Regions from separate parts of the Homo sapiens genome. Here all the other regions are linked to region 1. A link means that fine-mapping ties the variant in region 1 to the plasma level of a protein whose gene starts in the linked region. Region 1 holds a variant in brackets. A gene starts in each other region. All regions are shown on their reverse strands.

What was found. PIP is the posterior inclusion probability: the model's chance that the variant is causal. The UK Biobank Pharma Proteomics Project read protein levels with antibody pairs (Olink). The fine-mapping took linkage between variants from a reference panel, not from the people measured, so its PIPs are less certain.
Region 2: IL27 starts here. The variant in region 1 is fine-mapped to the plasma level of the IL27 protein (UK Biobank, PIP above 0.99).
Region 3: it holds the start of ADGRE1, and the variant in region 1 is fine-mapped to the plasma level of the ADGRE1 protein (UK Biobank, PIP above 0.99).

The regions. Positions count from the first base shown.
Region 1 is chr2:134,206,771-134,210,770 of GRCh38, reverse strand. It overlaps a transcript of MGAT5 not described here. Among named protein-coding and RNA genes, the nearest start is that of MGAT5, 45 kb to the left of the region's middle. RefSeq lists a silencer at 3,859-4,000. The variant G/T (reference allele first, on the strand shown) is at 1,780.
Region 2 is chr16:28,503,225-28,507,224 of GRCh38, reverse strand. IL27 (interleukin 27) reads left to right here and starts at 391. Exons shown (of 5, transcript NM_145659.3): 1 at 391-444; 2 at 3,175-3,347; 3 at 3,432-3,530. The coding sequence starts at 414.
Region 3 is chr19:6,885,217-6,889,501 of GRCh38, reverse strand. It overlaps ADGRE1 (adhesion G protein-coupled receptor E1), which reads right to left and starts at 1,923. Exons shown (of 21, transcript NM_001974.5): 1 at 1,863-1,923. The coding sequence starts at 1,893. RefSeq lists an enhancer at 1,870-1,929.

The DNA.
Region 1 (4,000 bases):
TTTACAGATTCAATGCCATCCCCATCAAGCTACCAATGACTTTCTTCACAGAATTGGAAAAAACTACTTTAAAGTTCATATGGAACCAAAAAAGAGCCCGCATCGCCAAGTCAATCCTAAGCCAAAAGAACAAAGCTGGAGGCATCACACTACCTGACTTCAAACTATACTACAAGGCTACAGTAACCAAAACAGCATGGTACTGGTACCAAAACAGAGATATAGATCAATGGAACAGAACAGAGCCCTCAGAAATAATGCCGCATATCCACAACTATCTGATCTTTGACAAACCTGAGAAAAACAAGCAATGGGGAAAGGATTCCCTATTTAATAAATGGTGCTGGGAAAACTGGCTAGCCATATGTAGAAAGCTGAAACTGGATCCCTTCCTTACACCTTATACAAAAATCAATTCAAGATGGATTAAAGATTTAAACGTTAGACCTAAAACCATAAAAACCCTAGAAGAAAACCTAGGCATTACCATTCAGGACATAGGCGTGGGCAAGGACTTCATGTCCAAAACACCAAAAGCAATGGCAACAAAAGCCAAAATTGACAAATGGGATCTAATTAAACTAAAGAGCTTCTGCACCGCAAAAGAAACTACCATCAGAGTGAACAGGCAACCTACAACATGGGAGAAAATTTTCGCAACCTACTCATCTGACAAAGGGCTAATATCCAGAATCTACAATGAACTCAAACAAATTTACAAGAAAAAAACAAACAACCCCATCAAAAAGTGGGCGAAGGACATGAACAGACACTTCTCAAAAGAAGACATTTATGCAGCCAAAAAACACATGAAAAAATGCTCATCATCACTGGCCATCAGAGAAATGCAAATCAAAACCACTATGAGATATCATCTCACACCAGTTAGAATGGCAATCATTAAAAAGTCAGGAAACAACAGGTGCTGGAGAGGATGTGGAGAAATAGGAACACTTTTACACTGTTGGTGGGACTGTAAACTAGTTCAACCATTGTGGAAGTCAGTGTGGCGATTCCTCAGGGATCTAGAACTAGAAATACCATTTGACCCAGCCATCCCATTACTGGGTATATACCCAAATGACTATAAATCATGCTGCTATAAAGACACATGCACACGTATGTTTATTGCGGCATTATTCACAATAGCAAAGACTTGGAACCAACCCAAATGTCCAACAATGATAGACTGGATTAAGAAAATGTGGCACATATACACCATGGAATACTATGCAGCCATAAAAAATGATGAGTTCATGTCCTTTGTAGGGACATGGATGAAATTGGAAACCATCATTCTCAGTAAACTATCGCAAGAACAAAAAACCAAACACCACATATTCTCACTCATAGGTGGGAATTGAACAATGAGATCACATGGACACAGGAAGGGGAATATCACACTCTGGGGACTGTGGTGGGGTCGGGGGAGTGGGGAGGGATAGCATTGGGAGATATACCTAATGCTAGATGACACGTTAGTGGGTGCAGCGCACCAGCATGGCACATGTATACATATGTAACTAACCTGCACAATGTGCACATGTACCCTAAAACTTAGAGTATAATAATAATAATAATTAAAAAATAAAAAAAAAAATAAAAAAAAAAAAAAAAATAAAAAAAAAATAAGCCAGTTCTATATACAATCCCTCTGCCCATCCACCTCCTCATCCCCGGTAAATACACAAAAACAAAAGAGGAAGACAAGTGACTGCAAGTGACACAGGGGAAGTGAGGTCTGGGTCTTCCCATGCACAAGGCCTCCTTCATGCTGAT[G/T]TAACAGAACACCAGGAAACCCTGCTCCCAGAACACTGGGGAAAAACAGACACTGACCACAACACTGGGGCATCTCCTTATTGATTCTCTCGGTTATTTATTTTCCCCAGAGGCTGGGAGTAAGATAATGCTTTCCTAAAACAAAGAATATGGTATAAAAACAAAATTTTTTAGAAGTCCAGCCAAGAAAGGCCACATAGGTGGGTAAGGTAATGTTTTATTAAATGTTTACATTCCCTAGATATTAAGTTTCAGAACTTGTCTAGGCTCTGTTCCCTTGGGCATTTCATACATAAGTAATACAAGTTCTTCCTTAGCTTTTATCCACAAATGGGATAAAGACCATGTTTCTGGTATACATATGCATCTATGTTATTTATATTATAACAACTATAGTAAATAAATGCATGTTTTTGCCTGCTGGGAATAAAGGCATATCCTATCCTCATTTCTCACATATTCTACTTAAAATGTTCCTAAGTAGCTTACCAGCTACTCTCTTATCTGCTGAAACTAACCAAATTCTGGCTGATGGTCAAAGACTATTTCCCTTGGGCACCAAGCTTCCTAAACAGTCAGGATGGTCTAATAAGGTTTTTTCTGAGTGTGGTACATTTACACCGTAGCATACATACTAATAGTTAAGTATTTGTTGCAACATGCATACGCACATCAAATTCATAAGCTGCTATATGCTGTCAATTAGAATGAGACCAAATTAAAATAAATGAGTTGATGCAGGATAAACTGAAGAAAATATGTTAAGTAACAAGTATAGGTGGTAACGTGAATATGGTGGAAACTAAGTCCAAAGTTTGGAAAATACTGGTCTGCTTAAAAAAAAAAAAAGTTCGGCCAAGAGTCTGAAAACTCTGATTCTATGTGCTGTCTTAATGTGTCCTTGGGGATCCTTCACTTATCATCCCTAGGCAGGCCTCACTACAATGATAGCAACAAAGCTGATAGGGTTAGGACAGTGTGACAAATGTGAAAACTTTTGGAAGTAGAACGCAAAGTCTTTTCACCTTCCAATCAGGTGTGACCACTGGCCAGCTGAGAAGCATGGACCTTTAAGTTATGACACACAAACCAACAAGGTATCAGAGTCAATGCTAATCCCTCTCCTTAAAACCTCCCTGAGTTGTGGAAAGTCATCTTGCCAAGCCTCTGGGCAAAGACCTCCTGAGGTTGGCTTGGTGGCAGGCAGGGGGCGGTAGATGGCAAGAGCACAAATGATACATATCACTGCAACCTGGTGTCTGATCTCAATAACACCTCTGCACAAGACCCCTGGTAAGGCAGGGCTTTCCAAGGTCAGGATTTGCCACTAAGCTCTTAAAATCTCTTCTGATCCTAGCAGAAGTAAACGATCAGTATCTCTGGTAAGCAACTGTATTTTTCTTTTTTTTTTTTTTAACCTTTCAGTGTCATTGTGAGGTTTGCCACATGCCTTGAGAAATAAAGCCCAATCTGAATGCTCAAACATGAAAGTCTGGCTGGCTCAGGCAATTGGAAGAAGATACCCATGCATGGTAACCGCTGAATGACAAGTTAGGTTTCCTGGAGAGAAAGACCTAACTATTCACCTTATATACTTAAATAATTGCCTCCTTTTTAAGGCAAAATAACAGCTCCTAAAGATGTCTCTGTCATAGCCCCAGAATCTGAGTATGTTACACCTTACATGGCAAAGGGCAATTAAGGATGCAGATGGAGTTAAGGTAGCTAATCAGCTGACCTTAAGATAATTATCAAGGTGGGTCTAATGCAATCACAGCGTCCTTAAATGCGGAAGAGGGAAGCAGAAGAATCACTATCTAAAAAGTGTCAAAGACTGGCTTGAAGACATAAGAAGCCATGAGTGAAGGAATGTGGACAGACTCTAGAAGCTGGAAGAGTCAAGAAAACAGATTCTAAGAGCCTCCTGAAAGGAACACAGTCCTGCTGACACTGGATTAGCCCAGTGAGACTCTGTATTGGTTCCCTATTGCTGCTATAACAAATTGTCATTAATAATTACCTATACTTAGTGGCTTAAAACAACAGAAAACTCTTCTCTCACAGTTCCAGACTCCAGATGTCTGAAATTGGTATCACTGGGTAGAAGCGAAGGGGTAGGCAGGACAGGGCCGTGCTCCCTCCAGAGGCTCTAGGGACAGTCGGTTCCTTGCCTCTTCCAGCTTCTGGTGGCTGCATGTATTTTTTGGCTTGTGGCCACAGC
Region 2 (4,000 bases), not on the chromosome of region 1:
GCAATCCCCTTACCTGGCTATCCATCTTTGGAAGGACAGTAGACCCTAGGATGATGGTGGCAGAGCCGAGAATCAGGAGGGGGTTTGGGACTCTGGGATCAACCAGTGAATAGGGCTGGATGGCTCACCCAAGCATGGGACATTGAGGACAGGGCTGGACGTGGGAGCTTAGCAGTGAGTCTGGAGCTTGGATGTCCCGAAACCCCAGCTTCCCGTCACCCCCCATCATACCTCCCACCCCCTCCGGGAAGGGAAATTACATTTCCCCATTTTAGCAAGGGGTGGCGAGAGGGAAGAATGAGTGAACACAAAGCTGAAAGTACAAGCAGGACGGAAAGTGAAACCGGGCACAGCCCCCAGTATAAGACCCCCCCTACCCAGGAGATGGCTGACCAAAGAGGCTGGGCCCCGCCATGGGCCAGACGGCAGGCGACCTTGGCTGGCGTGAGTTTGAAGCCAGGGGTGGGGGGCTTGGTTGAGTTTGGGCAGAGAATGGACGAGCTTGGCTGGTGCAGATGGGGGGTCGAGAGCTGAGAGCAGCAACTTGGCCAAGACTGAGGATTCGGCTGGCTGCTGCATGGGAAGGGAGGCTGGCATGACTGGGTGGGGGCCTGGGGCAGTGGGGTGGTGGTCTGACCCAGGGCTGGGCAGAGGATGAGAAGGAGGCCTTGGCTAGTGGGAATGGGGAGGGTTGGACCAGCAATTTGACAAGGACCAGGTCTAGGCAGATAAATGAAGAGTTTGGAGTGAATAAGCAGAAGCCAAACAGCTTGGCTAAGACTGAGAATGGGGCCGGCTGGAGGAAGAGCAGAACGAGGTGCTGGCACAAGTGGAGCACTGGGACCAAGATGTCAGCAGCCTCACTGGGTCAAAGGTCTTTAGTTTGATGTTGGAAAGAGGTCCAATCTGCGGCTGGTGGCTGCAGAACTCAGGGGCTAGAACCAGAGCAGTAGGCAGTGGAGAAGGTAACATGCCACGTAGGGCAGGTAGGGACCAAAGGCTGGAGGATGGAGACAGAGCCTTCAAAGGCCAGAGCCAATGACCCAGGATCAGCTGCAGAGGGTAAGGAGGGGGTCTGGGGTCTCCAGAGGTCAGGTTGGAGATGGCACAGCTCACTTACGGTTGGGCTTGATCCACCAGGGCCTGGGGGCACCCACCCTGTCCCCAACATTGAGCTAGGAAGAACCCCACTCTGCCTTAAGTCTCCAGGATGTCAGAGGGTCCGAGTGGCCCCAAAACCAGGGAGTCTGAATGCCAGAGATCTTACGTTAGGCATCGCCCACCACATCTGCAAGCCCACGAGGGAGGTAGATGTCCCTAGAAGCTCCCCTTCACCTTTATCAGGGGACATTTCGAAGAGCAGAGCCCAGGGGTTAGAGATTGAGAGAGGACAGGGAAGAGGCAGGGAGAGAAGGGAGAGCAGGATGGACTTCGGGCCAGTTTTGGTTTGTGTTTCGAGGAGAATTGTGTAACTCTTGTGCTTGCTAGATTTCCTCTCCCTGAGGGGGAAATTGATGAATGCTGCCCTCTTCCTAGAGCGCCCATCCGCTGCCCCTCTTTCCAGGAAAACACAGGTCAGGAAGCACACTCGGAATTCAGCCATTCTGGGCTGGGCGCAGTGGCTGATGTCTGTAATCCCAGCACTTTGGGAGGCCAAGGCAGGCGGATCACCTGAGGTCAGGAGTTGGAGACCAGCCTGGCCAACACGGCAAAACCCCTCTCTACTAAATATAATAAAAATTAGCCAGGCGTGGTGGCTACTCAGGAGGCTGAGGCAGGAGAATTGCTTTAACCTGGGAGGTGAAGGTTGCAGTGAGTCGAGATCGCGCCACTGCACTGCAGCCTGGGTGACAGAGTGAGAATCTGTCTTAAAAAAAAAAAAGCTCCCATACTGTGGATTCGCCCCAGGCAGGTTACCCTGCTAGGATCCACCTGCCGTGGTGGAAACTGGACAAACCTGTCCTTTTGACTCCCTGGAATAGAGCCTCTGGCATTGCCAGCCCATCCCTGGGGACCTCATGGCCAGTTCAAGCCATCAGAGCCGCTTGGCTGAGCCCAAAGAATCCTTGCCAGAACATGGTGTGCCCACTCCTGGGGCAGATGGCTGCCTCCCTCTGCATTCTCTGGGGAAAACCCATGGGCTCTGCATTTGGAAAAACCTGGAATCCAGTCCTGGCTTCCCACCTTCTGGCTATTTGACCTTGGGCAAGTCAACCTCACTGAGCCTCACCTGCAAATTGGGGAGAACAATAGCACTGAGGCTGCCACACGTGGTTGTGCAGGTTGCTCACTGAAAAAGGCATTTGGCCAAGGGAGTTTATGGGGGTCAAAATCCAGTCTCTGTCCCGGCACAGTGGCTCATGCCTGTGATCCCAGCAATTTGGGAGGCTGAGGCGGGAAGATCTCTTGAGGCCAGGAGTTCAAGACCAGCCTGGGCAACATAGTGAGACCCTGTCTCTACAAAAAAATAGAAACAGTTAGGCACAGTGGTGTGTCCCTGTGATCCCAGCTACTTGGGAGGCTGAGGCGAGAGGATCACTTGAGCCTAGGAGTTCAAGGCTACAGTGAGCTGTGATCACACCACTACACTCCAGGCTGGGTGATAGAACAGAACTCTGTTTCAAAAAAAAAAAAAAAGGATCAGGCTTCTGGTCTTTTTGCAAAAGTGGGCACACCATGCGGAGATGCCATATGGGGGCCGTGCTGGCTGCATCGTGGGGTTTTGTTTTGTTTTGTTTTGTTTTGTTTTTTTGAGACAGAGTCTGGCTCTGTCGCCCAGGCTGGAGCACAGTGGTGTTAGCTCACTGCAGCCTCTGCCTCCCAGGTTCAAGCGATTCTCCTGCCTCAACCTCCTGAGTAGCTGGGATTACAGGCATGCACCACCACGCCCAACTAATTTTTGTATTTTTAGTAGAGACAGGGTTTCGCCATGTTGGCCAGGCTGGTCTTGAACTCCTGGCCTCAGGTGATCCGCCCGCCTCGGTCTCCTAAATTGTTGGGATTACAGGTGTGAGTCACCGCACCCAGCCTCCATTGTGGTTTTGAGGAGGCAGAGGAATGATGCTGGTCAAAGTGCCTGCACCGTGCTCACAGCTAGCACAGGCTCAGAAAAGGCATGTTCCCTTCCTTCTCAAGCTCTCTCCCTGTCTTGCCACCCTCTTCCCATCTCTCCAGGGCTCAGCCTGTTGCTGCTTCCCTTGCTCCTGGTTCAAGCTGGTGTCTGGGGATTCCCAAGGCCCCCAGGGAGGCCCCAGCTGAGCCTGCAGGAGCTGCGGAGGGAGTTCACAGTCAGCCTGCATCTCGCCAGGAAGCTGCTCTCCGAGGTTCGGGGCCAGGCCCACCGCTTTGTAAGTCCCCCTAATGCAGCTGGCGCTGGAGATGGGCAGACCCCCAATCCCTTCTGGCCCCCACTAACAGACCTTGCCCCCCAGGCGGAATCTCACCTGCCAGGAGTGAACCTGTACCTCCTGCCCCTGGGAGAGCAGCTCCCTGATGTTTCCCTGACCTTCCAGGCCTGGCGCCGCCTCTCTGTGAGTGAGGGCTGGTGGAGTGGGGCGGGAAGCTTGTGATAGGCTGGGGCCAGGGTGCAAGATGAGGCTGGAGATTGAGCTGGAGATGCATTGGGGATAGAACCTGGATAAGGCTGAATATGTCATTGGACATAGAGATGAAAGACAGGCATGGTGACTTACACCTATAAACCCAGCACTTTGGGAGGCCCAGGTGGAAGGACTGCTTGAGGCCAGGAGTTCAAGACCAGTCTGGGCAACATAGTGAAACTTTGTCTCTACAAAAAAAAATTTAAGAGTTAGCCAGGCATGGTGGTGTACACCTTTGGTCCCAGCTACTCAGGAGGCTGACATGGGAGGATTGCTTGAGCTCAGGAGTTGGAGGCTGCAGTGAGTTATGATCCTGGACTCCAGGATGGAGAACAGAGGGAAACCCTGTCTCAGAAAAATAAATAAACTGCCAGGCGTGGTGGCTCATGCCTGTAATCCCA
Region 3 (4,285 bases), not on the chromosome of region 1:
GGCCAGGATGGTCTCGATCTCCTGACCTCATGATCTGCCTGCCTCAGCCTCCTAAAGTGCTGGGATTACAAGCGTGAGCCACTGCGCCCTGCCCATTTTTTAGTGTTTAAAGGCAATGCAGCCCTGCAGCATTTAGGTCTCCTGCACCATCATCATTATCGCCATCATTATCACTATCATCATCACCATCATCATCTTCATCATCACCATCATCATCATCATTATTATCACCATCATCACCATTATCATCATCACCATCACCATTATCACCATCACCACCATCATCATCATCACCACCATAATCACCAACATCACCATCTTCATCGTCATTATCACACCATCATCACCACCATCATCATCATTATCCCTATCATCACCATTATCATCATCACCATCATCACCATCTTCATGGTCATTATCACACCATCATCATCACCATCATCTTCATTATCACTATCATCACCATTATCATCATCATCATCATCACCATCACCATCATCATCACCATTTTCATCATCACTATTATAACCACCACCATCATGATCATTATCATCACTATCATTATCACAACTCTTTGCTGATTATCTTCAGGGCAGAATAGGGAGTGTTAATGGTTAATACCATTGCCAACACCCCAAAATAACAACTCTGCATGCCTACATTTGATGTCCACAGGCCACCTATTTCTTCTAATGTAGCCTGCCAGTCAACAAGTCCCACAGATCTAAACTCCCAAATTCTATCTATTATTACTAACAAAAATTCTTCTACTCATTCATTAATTATTTTAGAGGTAATTCAGCATGCTGTTTAGGCATACAAAGTCTGAAGTCAAAGTGCTTAGGTTTAAAAATCTGGCTTCACCAATTAATGATTGCGTGGCCTTGAGGAAGTTATTTAATCTCTTTGTGCCTCAGTTTCCTCCTTGGTAAAATAGGGTATTCAGATCCACTCTTCAACAGCAGAGGAAACCCATACTTGCTACTTAGAATATGTCCCCAATATCCTCCATTCTTAAATTTGATCCAATGACCAAAACACACAAGACATAGAAGAAAAACCAGAAACACAGAAGATAAACAAGGCTGAGACAAACTGACACCTGAAGAAAGAGAAATAAGAGCACAGGAAGGGTCTATCTCATCCTTCAGGACTCAGCTCGAACTGCCCCTCCTCAACCCCAGACTTCTCCCTTCAACATAACTCCCGACCACATTCTATAACAACTTCTTTCATAGCACTTATCACTACCTGAAATTCCTATGTTTACTTATTTTTTGGGGCAACATAGTATAGTGGAAAAGCTTACAGACTCTGAAGTCAGACTGTCTGGCTTGAAATCCTGCCTCTACCCCTTATTGACTAAGTGGCCTTGGGAAAATTATTTTATCTCTTTTGCCTCAGTTTTCTCATTTGCAAAATAGGACTAATAATGACCCAATGTCATAGAAATGTTGTGACAATTGGATACACTCTATGTTTAAAGAAGTTACAGCAGTGCTAAGTGGGCTATGATCATCTGTGCCTTCTTTCCTGTCTGCTCCTACCCACTAGAATATCAGCCTCAAGAGTGCAGGAACTTAGTCTTTTTTTCTCACTGCTATATCCTCTAGTGCCTAGAACAGCACCTGACACACAGGACTTGCTCAGGTCAAATGAATGACTATAGAGAAAAATCTATCCTAACAGATGGACTTCCCTGAGCTATGGAATTTTGTCAAAGGTTCCCTGAATGAAGGTGTTTGCAGCATCCAGTCTGGACTTATGATCTCTTGGCTGGACCATCCATGGCCCTCCCATTTCTCCTGAAGTCTATTTCCAATCCAGGCCTCCCCTAGCCCCCCATTCAGCCTCACACTCACCCCAGAAGAGGAGCAGGTTGAAGCCACGCATTATGCTGTAGTTCTGTCATTCAAAGAAAAGAAACTTTTCTACTAACGCTGGGTTTTCAGTAACCAGAAGGTGTGCGAAGAGGGGAAGGCGGAGTCAGAGTTGCTCAATGCTGCCTGGTCATCATAGCCCTTTTTGCTGACTTGCTGCAACTAAAAGACAGCCTAGAAAATCCTAATTTCCCCCTTTCTTCACAATAAAGAGAAGTTAATCTGCCTAATGTATATCATTCTCTCTCTCTCTCCTTCCCATGGTCTCTCCCTTTTTCTTTCCCATCAACATCTATCTCCCATCTCTCAACACCTTCTTTCATTGCACCCAATAAAGGAGCTTCCGCTTCCTGCCTCCAGTGAAGCAAATCTCAGCCTTTAGGGTCTCTTCCCAGTCTCCCGTATAAAGACAGCCATCACAACCATCATGTACCAGGCAGTGTGCTAGGCACATTGGCAACAAAGTGTAATTTCATTATCATGTTAACCTTGTAAAGTAGGAATTCCCCTCCCTCCCTCTATTCACCAACAAAATGGAAACTGAGACTTGCAGAGGAGTTATAACTTGTCCAAGATCTCTCAGACTTGAGATTTGAACCCAGGACCCTCTGATTCCAGAGTCAAGAGCTTTAACCATCTTATTTTCCTTCAGATCTCAACTCTGTCTGACGATTATACAGCAACACTTCCACCCCATTCCCAGCTTCCTAACTCTCTCTGGTAACATCTTAGGGTCTCACAAGGGCAGACCCTCAGACAAGGATTCTAGCAAAAGTAGTTTATCAAGAAGGTGGCCCCAGAAAGCACCAGCTGGGGGAGGAGAAAGTGAATCAGGAAAGGCAAAGAGCCAATACTGGGTGTGTCTTCAAATAAGTTACATGGTGAGAAAGTGGAACTTAACCTCCCCAGGGATGACTGGGGAGCGGCATGGAACATACTCTTCAGTTATTCCAACCGAGGGGTGAGGGAGCTGAGGTATTTATATCCCACCTACTGTCAGTCATGGGTTGACTTGAGGCTTGCTCCTAGAGGGTGTCAACCCCTTGAATCTTCAGGCCTGGCCTCCAAGCAGATAGAATGGGCTCCAGTTGATGTAATCCCACTGATAACAAAGTGTAGTGACTGGCAGATATTGAAGCAGTGTCATCCATCTGGGGTAATACCCGAGGTTCATTGCCTCACACCAAGGAAATAGAAAATACAGACATGGCCGGGCACCGTGGCTCACACCTGTAATCTCAGCACTTTGGGAGACTGAGGAGGGTGGATTACGAGGTCAGGAGTTCAAGACCAGCCTGGCCAAGATGGGGAAACCCCGTCTTTACTAAAAATACAAAAAATCAGCCAGTGTGGTATGGTGTTAGGCACCTGTAATCCCAGCTACTCCGGAGGCTGAGGCAGAGAATTGCTTGAACCCAGGAGGCGGAGGCTGCAGTGAGCCGAGATCGTGCCACTGCACTCCAGCCTAGGCAACAGAGTGGGACTCTGTCTTAAAATAAAATAAAATAAAATAAAATAAAATAAAATAAAATAAAATAAAATAAAATGCAGACACACAAAAAATTACTTTTAGAGCAGAGGTTTAGGCCGAGCACAGTGGCTCATGCCTGTAATCCCAGCACTTTGGGAGGCTGAGACGGGTGGATCACCTAAGATCAGGAGTTTGAGACCAGCCTGGGCAACATAGTGAAACCCCATCTCTACTAAAAATACAAAAATTAGCCAGGTGTGGTGGCTCATGCCTGTAATTCCAGCTACTCAGGAGGCTGAGGCAAGAGAATCGCTTGAACCCGGGAAGCAGAGGTTGCAGTGAGCCGAGATTGTGCCATTGAACTCCAGCCTGGGTGACAGAGCAAGACTCCATCTCAAAAAAAAAAAAAAAAAGAAAGAAAGAAAAGAAATTTAATAGGCGAGAGAAAGAGAAAAGCTCTCTCTCCTGCAAAGAGAGGGGGCTCCCAAGTGGGTCTTCCAGTTTCATGGTGAAATGCACGGGGTTTTATAGATGAGCTTTAGGTGGTGATATCTGATTTACATAAGGGCCCAAAGATTAGTTGGACCAGGTGTGCCGTTTACATAGAGTACAAAGAAGCTGGCTGCCCACCCTAATATTTTATTATGCAGATGGGGTCTCTACCTGGCCAGGACCATGTTGCCTGTTCCTTTACCGTACACGTGGTTGATAAAGAAAAGGGAACATGGAGCAAGCCTGCATGTTGAACACGCCTGGCACCCAGGTAGCCTATTCCCATTGGCACAGCTGCCGGCATTCACCCGAGCAAGCTTCCAGCTTGCTTTTCTATGTCTGCCGGCTGATTTTTCAGACTGCTCTTTTTTAGAAAAGAAATTATTTGGCCGGGCGCGGTGGCTCACGCCTGTAATTCCAGCGCTTTGGGAGGCCGAGGCGG